Regions from separate parts of the Homo sapiens genome. Here region 1 is linked to region 2. Evidence: fine-mapped expression QTL. A gene starts in region 2. The other region holds a variant in brackets. All regions are shown on one strand. Distances are between the middles of the regions. Region 1 has its middle 33 kb from the start of TTC34. Region 2 holds the start of TTC34 (tetratricopeptide repeat domain 34).

Region 1 (4,376 bases), 34 kb after region 2:
CTCCACCATGGCTCCTCACCCGCCCCACCCTGCTGGTCCCGGGCTTCTGAGCGGAGAGGGTGGCCCTTGTCCATTGCAGGCATGCAGGGGTGAGAACGGTCCGAGGGGCTCACAAGGGTGAACTGGGGGCCACGGATGTACGCTCCAGGCTGGGGGCTCAGGCAAGGCCCCAGGGGGCCCCACAGAGCTCCCTGCATAAAATCAGGGGCCAGTGAAGGGGGTCGGCCTCTGTCCCAGCCATATACCCAGAGGTGCAGGATGCAGAGTCTGTAGCCCCCTCTCTGGGGTCTTGGTGCCCCTGCCTCACCTACACTTCCTCTCCTGGTGGCCCCAGACCCCTGGGGTGGGAGCTGACCCGGTGGGAGCACCAGACGGGGTCGCGACACTCACCCCGTGGCCACCGCCAGCAGCGTGGAGAGCTCACCAAGGGTGTGATGGATGGGGGCGCCCATCCTGCAAAGCTGTGACAAATGTGCCTCCCGCTCACAGACTCTCTTTGGAATCCGCTAATACTCCTTGAAGGTGAAGTCCCATTTTTCCCCTGCAATCACAGTATTAAACTTTAATATCTGATATTAATAAAACATACTCTCTCTAATAGAGTCACTCGAGGCCGGGAGGGAGCGCGTGCAGAGGATGGTCCCTGGTGACTGTCTGCAATGTTTTCCCATCCTGGCCAGGTGCTGGGAGTGCTGCGATGCAGAGGGTGGGGGCAGAGTCGAAGGCGGGAAGCTGCCCCACTGGGGCTTCCTGTGCCATCCTCCCCAGGCAGCACCGAGGCTCCCCTGACTCTTCACAGCGGATGTCAGACAAGCAACACAGGTGTCTCTCAGATGGCAGGCAGGGTGCTGCTGCCTCCGGGGGACCAGGTATGGCCCCTCTGCCTCCAGTGGGGAAGGAAACAGGGTCCATGTTTTGGCTGAAGCCCCTTCAGCTAAAGACCCCCCCGGAAAGAGGGAGAGCCCTATTCCCCTCCACCGTGCACCCCGGCACTGTGCTGTAGCCATGCATGCTGCCCTTTTGCAGGATTGCCAGAGAATCGTTTGCCGAGACTGGGGTGCTTTTGAGAGTGGGGGAAGCTGTTCGTTGGCTGGGACAGTGAGTGCAAACTAGGGCCATCCCGGGCATCGGGGCTTCTCCTCATCCCATGCAACTCCACCCCATGTCTCCCTCTGACTGTGCTCAGGGGGCTCCCTCTGCCAGGTCTTCCTGCCTCCCAGCCCCTCACCGCCTCCCCTAGCCCCGTGTCCATGCTACCTATTCCCTGGAACCAGCCTCGGGCTCTGCCTCGGTGTGCCTGTCCTGCTCTTCCTGCCCTCCCTGTGTGTGCCGCCCGAAGGGGACTGTGCTGTGGAGTGGTCAGAGGGCGGGTTTGATGGAGAAGCAGTGGCTCCTGCCCCAGGATCTGGGAGGTGCTGGGGTGAGCAGCGGTGCCGTGGGGCCCCCAGGAGTCTCCGTTCCCACTGCAGGTGTGTTGGGTTGTTTCCCGGCTCTCGGGGCAGGGCTGCGTCGTGTCGTATGTCGCATTCCAGGTGTAAGTCACCAATCACCCTTTCAAAGCGTACAATTCAGTGATTTGTTTTTAGTACAGTTGATCCTCATTCACGGATTCCACATTTACCAATTTGTCTATGTGATGAAAGCTATGGGTGGTCTCCAAATACATACTCCCAGTGCCCTGAGGTCACCCGGACGTGTACCCAGTGCCAAGCAAGCCTCTTTCTCGAGGTCGATTTAGTACGTGTTTCTTGCTTTGTGCGTTTCTTGTTGCTGATTTCGCTGTTGAAGTGGCCTGAGCGCTGTCCTGTGTGGCCCAGGGCTCTGGGGGGCTGACCGCACTGCTCTGGGCTGCCCCTGAGAATGCCTCCCCGGCCCCAGGGAAAATATCAGGAAAAATGCCTCACC[C/T]CAGTGGCATCTCCGCTGCTCCACCAAACAGCCTCTGAGGGGGACACCTTTCCTCCCCGCTTAGAGATAAGGACACCAGGCATGGAGGGGCCGGGCCACTTCCCAGCCATCGCTTCGAGCTAGGAGGACGGTTATTGCCATCCTTGCCTCAGCTTTTCCTGGGCAGGCCCTGGGCCGGGCCTGTGCGTGCTTCCCCCAAACGCCAGCGTGCCCAGAACAGTGGGTGCCCAGGGGAAGTTTGTGGGTACAGAGAGTGGGAGGGGGAGGTGGGAGCCAGAGGGAGTCGGGGGTCGGAGGCTGTGAGGTGTTTACAGAACAGGAGTCTGCAGTAGGGGCCCTGCCAGGAAGCCGTGGACAAAGAGGCTTTGCCGGGAGGTGCGGCCACGCAGGGATCCGGAGCTGGTACAGGCAGACCTCCTTGGAGAACTTGGACATGTCTCCACTGTTCCATGGGGTGGGCAGAGAGGAGAAAGGGGGCTCTGTGCACTGCCCTCGCCCCGAACCAGGGCCGACCTCGCCCCGGCAGCCAGTGCCGCCTGCCCCCACTGCAGTCCACCATCTAGTGCCTTCTAGAAACTTGGCCTTCTCTGGCTGAGCCAGCTGTGTGGCTGGGGCACAAGGCCCCGGGGATCCCGGGTTCTGACAGCCACGATAGTGGGTTTGGACCCAGGTTTCCAGGCCAGGTCCTGGGACACTTGCCTGGTTGGTGGGGCTGGGGCAGGGACTGTACAATGGAGGAGTGGGGGGCCAGCCCCTGGGAGTCATTAGACACTCAAGCCGGAGGCCCCCTGAACCCAGGAGGTCATCTGGAAAAACATCAAGTGGCCCCCACTGAGAATGGTCTCAATGCCCCCAGTCCCTTTAAATCTCACCTTAAGGTTTCAAGCGTCGAGCAGGGGTAATTTCCAAGTCATTGTCCAAACAAGAGTGGCTCAGTGGTGGTCCCACACCTGGCTGGGCAGCTCCCCCTCCCACACAGCGGCCACTCGGCCCCCCAGTTCTGCTACCCTATACCCTGCTAATAAAATCCATATAGTCCCTAAAACCCCCTCGGCCAGGCTGCCCCTCCTGTGCCCTTCCCCACCACTGCCAGCCGCGCCCCTCCCCTAGCACCCTGCAGCCTCGCCCCCTCTCTCTCTGCCTCAGACAGGGTCTCCTGAAGGGCAGTCATGGACCCCTGGGGGGCTCCAGCCACTTTCAAGTGGTCTTCAGGCAGCGTGGTGGTTTCAGAAGAAAAAGTGCTGGAGCAATTTGGTTCAGATATATTCACTAATGTGAAATTTAAGATTAATTATGATTTCTGCAGAAATCCCATTATGCAAATAATAACTGTTTTCTTCTGAAGGGCTGCACAGCGGCTGTGAGGCCTGCGGGGGCCGAGATCCATCTCCCTGACCCCCGGGGCATTATCTGCTAGGAAACTTTGTCAAATATAGGCAGGGGGCCCTTGAAGCTTTTGCATCTCTTTTTTTTTTTTTTTTTTTTAAAGCTCAGGAACCTCCAGATAAAATCATTTTCTTCCCCTAGAACAACTGCAAAATGCTTTTTAGGTTTAAGTGGAAGAATTTTGCTGCGAAAGGTAGAGAAGTGATTCCACTCAGAATTGCACAGAATGGGCATTCACGCTGCGTGGCTACTGAGAAGGTCCTAGAACAGACCACAAAGGTAACAGCCGAGGACAGCGCAGAGGCGCCCAGCACCGAGTCTGCGTGAGTTGGAGGATCGATGGCACCTGCCTCGGCCGGGAGGTCGAGTCTGTACTTAGAATCCACTACGGGGCAGATGTGAATTAGTGTCTGGCCCTGGGTGACTTGGGAGTGCTTCAAAACCATTTGTCCCATTGTCTCCCGAAACTGGTGATAGAAGCAAGGACATTTCATTGGCTTGACCTCTTTTGGGGAGGACCACTGTGCCGCCAGGAGGGCCCAGAGCAGGAGGGCCCGGAATGCAGCGAACACAGGGATTGATTCACAGAGACAAGAGGCCAGCACAGCCCCTCCCAGCCCACTGCAGAGGGGAAGCCATGTCTGGAAAAGCGACACAAGGCCTTGCTGTAGTCAAGAGTATTTATCTTTGAGGCCTGCTGCTCCAAAAGATGGAATATTCAGCTCTTCTCCAGATGGGGTACCCCGTGCAATCTGTGTGATGTGAGGGGATGAGGCACGAGTATTTTTTTCTGACTTTGGTCATGTTAAAAAATCTGATTTCCATAACGGCTGTGCCTGACTTGAGGGATTTGTTGAGGACATTGAATAACCTGCAGCTGATCCTGTCAGAAATAAAACAGCATTCTCTTCCGCCCTTGTTAGTGAACCTTTTAATTCAGTGGTTCTCAACCTTTTTGGCACCCAGGACGGGTTTTGCGGAAGACAATTTTTCTATGGATCTGGAGGGTGGGGGATGGTTTGGGGATGATTCAAGGGCATTGCATTTATTTGGACTTTATTTCTATGATGATTACATTGTAATAT
Region 2 (4,376 bases):
TGGGAGGCTGAGGCAGGTGGATCACTTGAGGTTAGGAATTTGAGACCAGCCTGGCCAACATGATGAAACTCCATCTCTACTAAAAATACAAAAATTAGCCAGGCATGATGGTGGGTGCCTGTAATCCCAGTTACTCGGGAGGCTGAAGCAAGAGAATCTCTTGAACCCAGTGGGTGGAGGTTGCGGTGAGCCGAGATCGCCCCATTGCACTCCAGCCTGGGCAACAAGAATGAAACTCCATCTCAAAAAAAAAAATGCAGCTCAGAGTACCTCACTCCACAGCTCAGCCTCACAGACTGAGGGTAACATCCAAGGGCCTTGGGAGGCCAGGAGGATCTAGCCCCACAGCTGCCATCTTCAGTCTCCCATTCGTTTTCCCCTTCCCTCCGACAGTCGCCCTGGCCCCCTCAGTGGCAGGGGGAGCCCAAGCTCTTGCTCCCCTAAGGACTTGGCACATTTGCTTCTGCTGCCTGGAACCCTCACTCTCAGCCTAAATGATTCCTCTCCTGAGAAGCTTTCCCTGATCACCGGCTGGAGCAGTACCTTGCCCATCCCATTTCTTAAAGCATGCATTTTGTTTGTGTCTTTGGGTGCTCCAAAGGGGCAGGGCCTGACTTTCTTGTCACTGAGGCACCCCAGCCCCAGCACAGCCTCACCCCATCATGGCAGGACATAACCATGTGGGGAGGGAGTGGCGGGGGCAGCTTTCACCCTGGCTCTGCAGGGGCCATGCCGTCCTCCTACCTTGGGGTTCGCTGCCGGTGGGATGGGCCTCGAGGGCCCGGCTGCATGCTGCCAGGCAGTCCTCAAACCTGCCGCTGTGGAGCAGAGCTTCAGGTGACAGGGTGTCACTCCGGGTGCCCCTGGGGTCCAGAGCCGCCAGGAGTCGCTGGCCACCGGTCTCCTGCTGGCCGGCACTGTGCCCAGCCTCCGGGTGCCCCGAGAGGTAGTCCTGGAGGGCACTGAGCAGCGCGGGGAGGTGGGGCCGCTGGTGGGTGCGAATGAAAGCTACCGTCCGGTCGGCGCTGGAGGCGAAGGCCTGGAGATAGGCGGCCACACCATCCGCTGCCTGCACCCCGGACAGGACCCAGGCGAGGGCGCGGGTCAGCCGCAGCTCCAGGACTTGCTGTGCATGAGAGTCCAGCAGGGCGCTGCAGCGTTGCACCACTTCTTCGTGACGCCCGCGGGCCAGCAGACCTGCCAGCAGGTGCAGGATGGCGGCGGGGTGGTCCGGGCAGAGGGCGCCGAGGAAGGCAGAGGCCAGCGACCCTGTCAGGGAGACCACTGCCATGCCGTCCCAGTGGATGGCGGGGATCTGGCTGTCCCCGCGGCACCAGGACTCCAGGGTGGCCACCACCGCCGCCCCCCGAGCCTGGGCCAGGGCAGTGCGCACACTCTGCAGGGCTGAGGGGGCGTGGCAGCTGAATGCAGCCAGGTAGAAGGCGGTGGCCAGGGGCAGCTCCCCCAGCGCCAGATGCTGCTCCCCCTCCCGGCAGAGGCAGGCCACGAGCTCCTGGGCTGACATCATGTCTGGGACCCCGACGGGCCCATGTCTGGTCCTCAGAGTACCTGGGGGTGGGGGAGCATGGTGAGTCCACAGAGGGCGGCCAGTTCTCCTGCCCTGTGGCCACCCGTGCCCAGCCTCAAGCCACCTCCACCCCTTCCCATTGACCCCACGGTCAGTGCAGACCCCACTGGGTGAAAACTGGGGGGATCCTGGGCTGGTGGGGTGGGGCCTACCAGGTGTCCCAGGCCAACTTCCAGCCCACTGTTCACCTCTGGGGCCTCAGTTTCGTGCCTTGCAGAATGGGACAGTGGCCTCCCCCAGCTCAGTTCCCTCTAAGAACATCTGACCCCTGAGTGTCCATGTCGGGAGGGTTACGGTGGCCCGAGGTGTCAGGGCCCAGCAATAGGAACCCCGGACCCACCCTCTGCCCCTCCCAACCCTGAGCCCCTCAGGAAGGCACACCCCCCGTCAGTCCAGGCAGCCCTCTCAGTGGGACGCAGGACCACACCCCTGCCCACCCTCTCACACCTGGGCCATTCGAGGGGGGCGCCGAGAGCACCTGCCAGGCCCTTGGGTCGGGGGAGCCACCCCAGCCCATGGGTGGGGGGGTTCAGTTTTGAGGTTGAGGTTCCAGGGACAGCCCCTGGTACTCCCCTATTCCCTGTCCCCAAGCTACTTGACCTGACGAACTAGCTCCGCACAGCCCTTTCTTCCCTCATCAAACAGGCAGCCCCCAGCATCCGCTCTCAGACACACACAGACACACTCACACTCGTCTGCAGCTTGGAGGCTGAGCCGGCTGTGCCCTGGGGACCCAGATTCCCTCGTGGGTGGTGGGGGACAGAGGGATGTGGCTGGCTGGAGGGCCCAGGCCTGGGTGGGGCTCCTATGACCGCCCCGTGTGGGTTGGGGAAGGCACAGCCTGCGGTTTCCCGGGAGAGTGTCAACACCCTTGGGTCTCCTGGCTGTCCTGCAGCGCCCCGCTGTGGCCAGAGGCTACCAGGCCGAGGTCCCACCCACACTGCCCCAGCCAGGCTCCAATGGGCTGCCTCAGAGCAGAGAACCCTGAGTTCATGGGGGTGTTGGGGGAGAAGGGGCCTGTGGGGTACAGCCCCCCATAGCCGGGGCCAGCCTCCACCCTGCCTGCTCTGCCAGGGTGCCCCCAGCCTCCTCTCCACATAGATGAGGAGGGCGCTTCCTGGAGGCAGGTGGGGGCCGCCTGCCCACCCAGTGCACTCAGGCTCTGGGTTTGTCCCCCAGAACTCCGCCTGGGCTGCTATGCGGGCCCCTCACCGCCCAGCCTCACTCCTCTTCTGGCAGGGCCCTGTCACCCGGTCCTGGGGCACCTCCCCACAGGCTGTTCCCTGTGCCGGCAGCTGGGACTGGACCTTCCGTGCACAGCCAGCCCATTTCCCTTGGCCGTCCTCCCTCTGAGAGGCTTAGGCAGCCCTGTCCTGCCTGCACCAGCTGAGCCAGCTGTGCCCTGGGGAGGGCAGGGCACATTAGCCGAGGGCACACCCCTCCCCCATCACAGGGTTGAGGCCCAGAGGCAGCTCTGGGAGCCATGACCTGAGCCTACTGCCCAGGGACCCTGATTGTTGCTGAGGAAGGGGTGGCAGCATAGGGACTATTTTAGGAAACATCACCTTCAGCCCGTGGCCACCGTCAGCCCATGCCGCAGGAGCAGAAAGACTGAGTGGGGTGGCTGGAGGCAGGCTCAGGTCCCTGAAGCTGAGACCCCACCACCGGCAGCTGCCCTGGAGGGCAGGCATGAGTGGGGGGAATGGGGGTGGTGCGTCCCTGAGAGAGGTCCCTCCCAATTCAGGATGCCAAGGTGCCCGGACACCAGGCCAATGCTGGCTCCTCTGTGGGGCTCAGGGAAGCAGGGTTGGGGGTGCCCTTTGGGGGAGGAGATCTTGGGAGTGGGGGGTGGCATCCCTGATCCCCTCGATGTCTGGGTCTCCTGAGACATGCCCCGCAGGCCCTTTGGGGAGGGTGTGGAGCCCCTGCAGCGTGGGCAGAGCAGTCAGGGTCAGTCTGAGGGTGCAGGGCAGGGGGGTCAGCAGGGCTGGGGCTGCCTGGCCCAGTTCTTCAGCTCCATGACATTCACCAGGGCCCAAGGCCTGTGCGGGTAATGCAGTGGGGGCAGTTTATTAAGAGATTGCCCATTACTCGGTGTTGATTACTTTCATTTTAATTGCCCTAATTAGGCGAGAGCTGTAATGGAGTGGGGCTGTCACCAGGGCTGTAGAAGAGCCCGGGGCACAGAGGTGGCAGGTCTGCGCGACAGTTGCCATCACAGCAGTGCCGATGGGCCCCCTGCGTCTCTGCCCTGTGCACAGTGCCCTGCCCGGGGCCCACAGGCACTGGCCAGATGAGCCTGGAAGTCTCGGAGGGTCCCGAGCTATGATCACAGCCCCTGCCTGAGAGCAGCACACCTGGATGCAGGTAATCCCAGGGCCGCCTCCACGCCACCTCCCAATCCGCACTCTCGTCTCTGATTCTGCCACAGACAAAAGTGGGCGGCTGAGCCGGACAGGGAGGCCGAGGCCGGTGCCTGGTAGTCTCAGGGTCTCGTGTTCGGGTTTGTGCTGCTTTAGTTTATGAGTCAAAAGGATTTCCAACATTTCCAACTTGAGGCTAGCGGGGGGCGGGGGATACTGCTCATTTGCCCTCTGCACACTTTCCCATTCAAGACCATTAGCGCACTGACAGCGTAGGGAGCTGGCTCATCTGACGCTTCAGGGGGAAACAGGGTTTGAGGGTGATGGAAGCATTCAGCCCTGACTGGACCCACAACAACTACTTGTCCTTACAGACCCCTGCGAAGAGCCCAGGAGCTGCTTCCGACGCCCTGGGAGCCGCTCCT

Evidence for each region. PIP is the estimated chance that this variant, and not a neighbour inherited with it, causes the effect. A credible set is the group of variants that fine-mapping cannot tell apart.
Region 1: its variant is the best candidate, but not a certain one, in a credible set for the expression of TTC34 in tibial artery (GTEx, PIP 0.63).

What each region holds. Positions count from the first base shown.
Region 1 is chr1:2,832,894-2,837,269 of GRCh38, forward strand. No RefSeq gene overlaps it. Among named protein-coding and RNA genes, the nearest start is that of TTC34, 33 kb to the left of the region's middle. The variant C/T (reference allele first, on the strand shown) is at 1,906.
Region 2 is chr1:2,799,300-2,803,675 of GRCh38, forward strand. TTC34 (tetratricopeptide repeat domain 34) reads right to left here and starts at 2,394. Exons shown (of 9, transcript NM_001242672.3): 1 at 2,278-2,394; 2 at 745-1,569. The coding sequence starts at 1,528.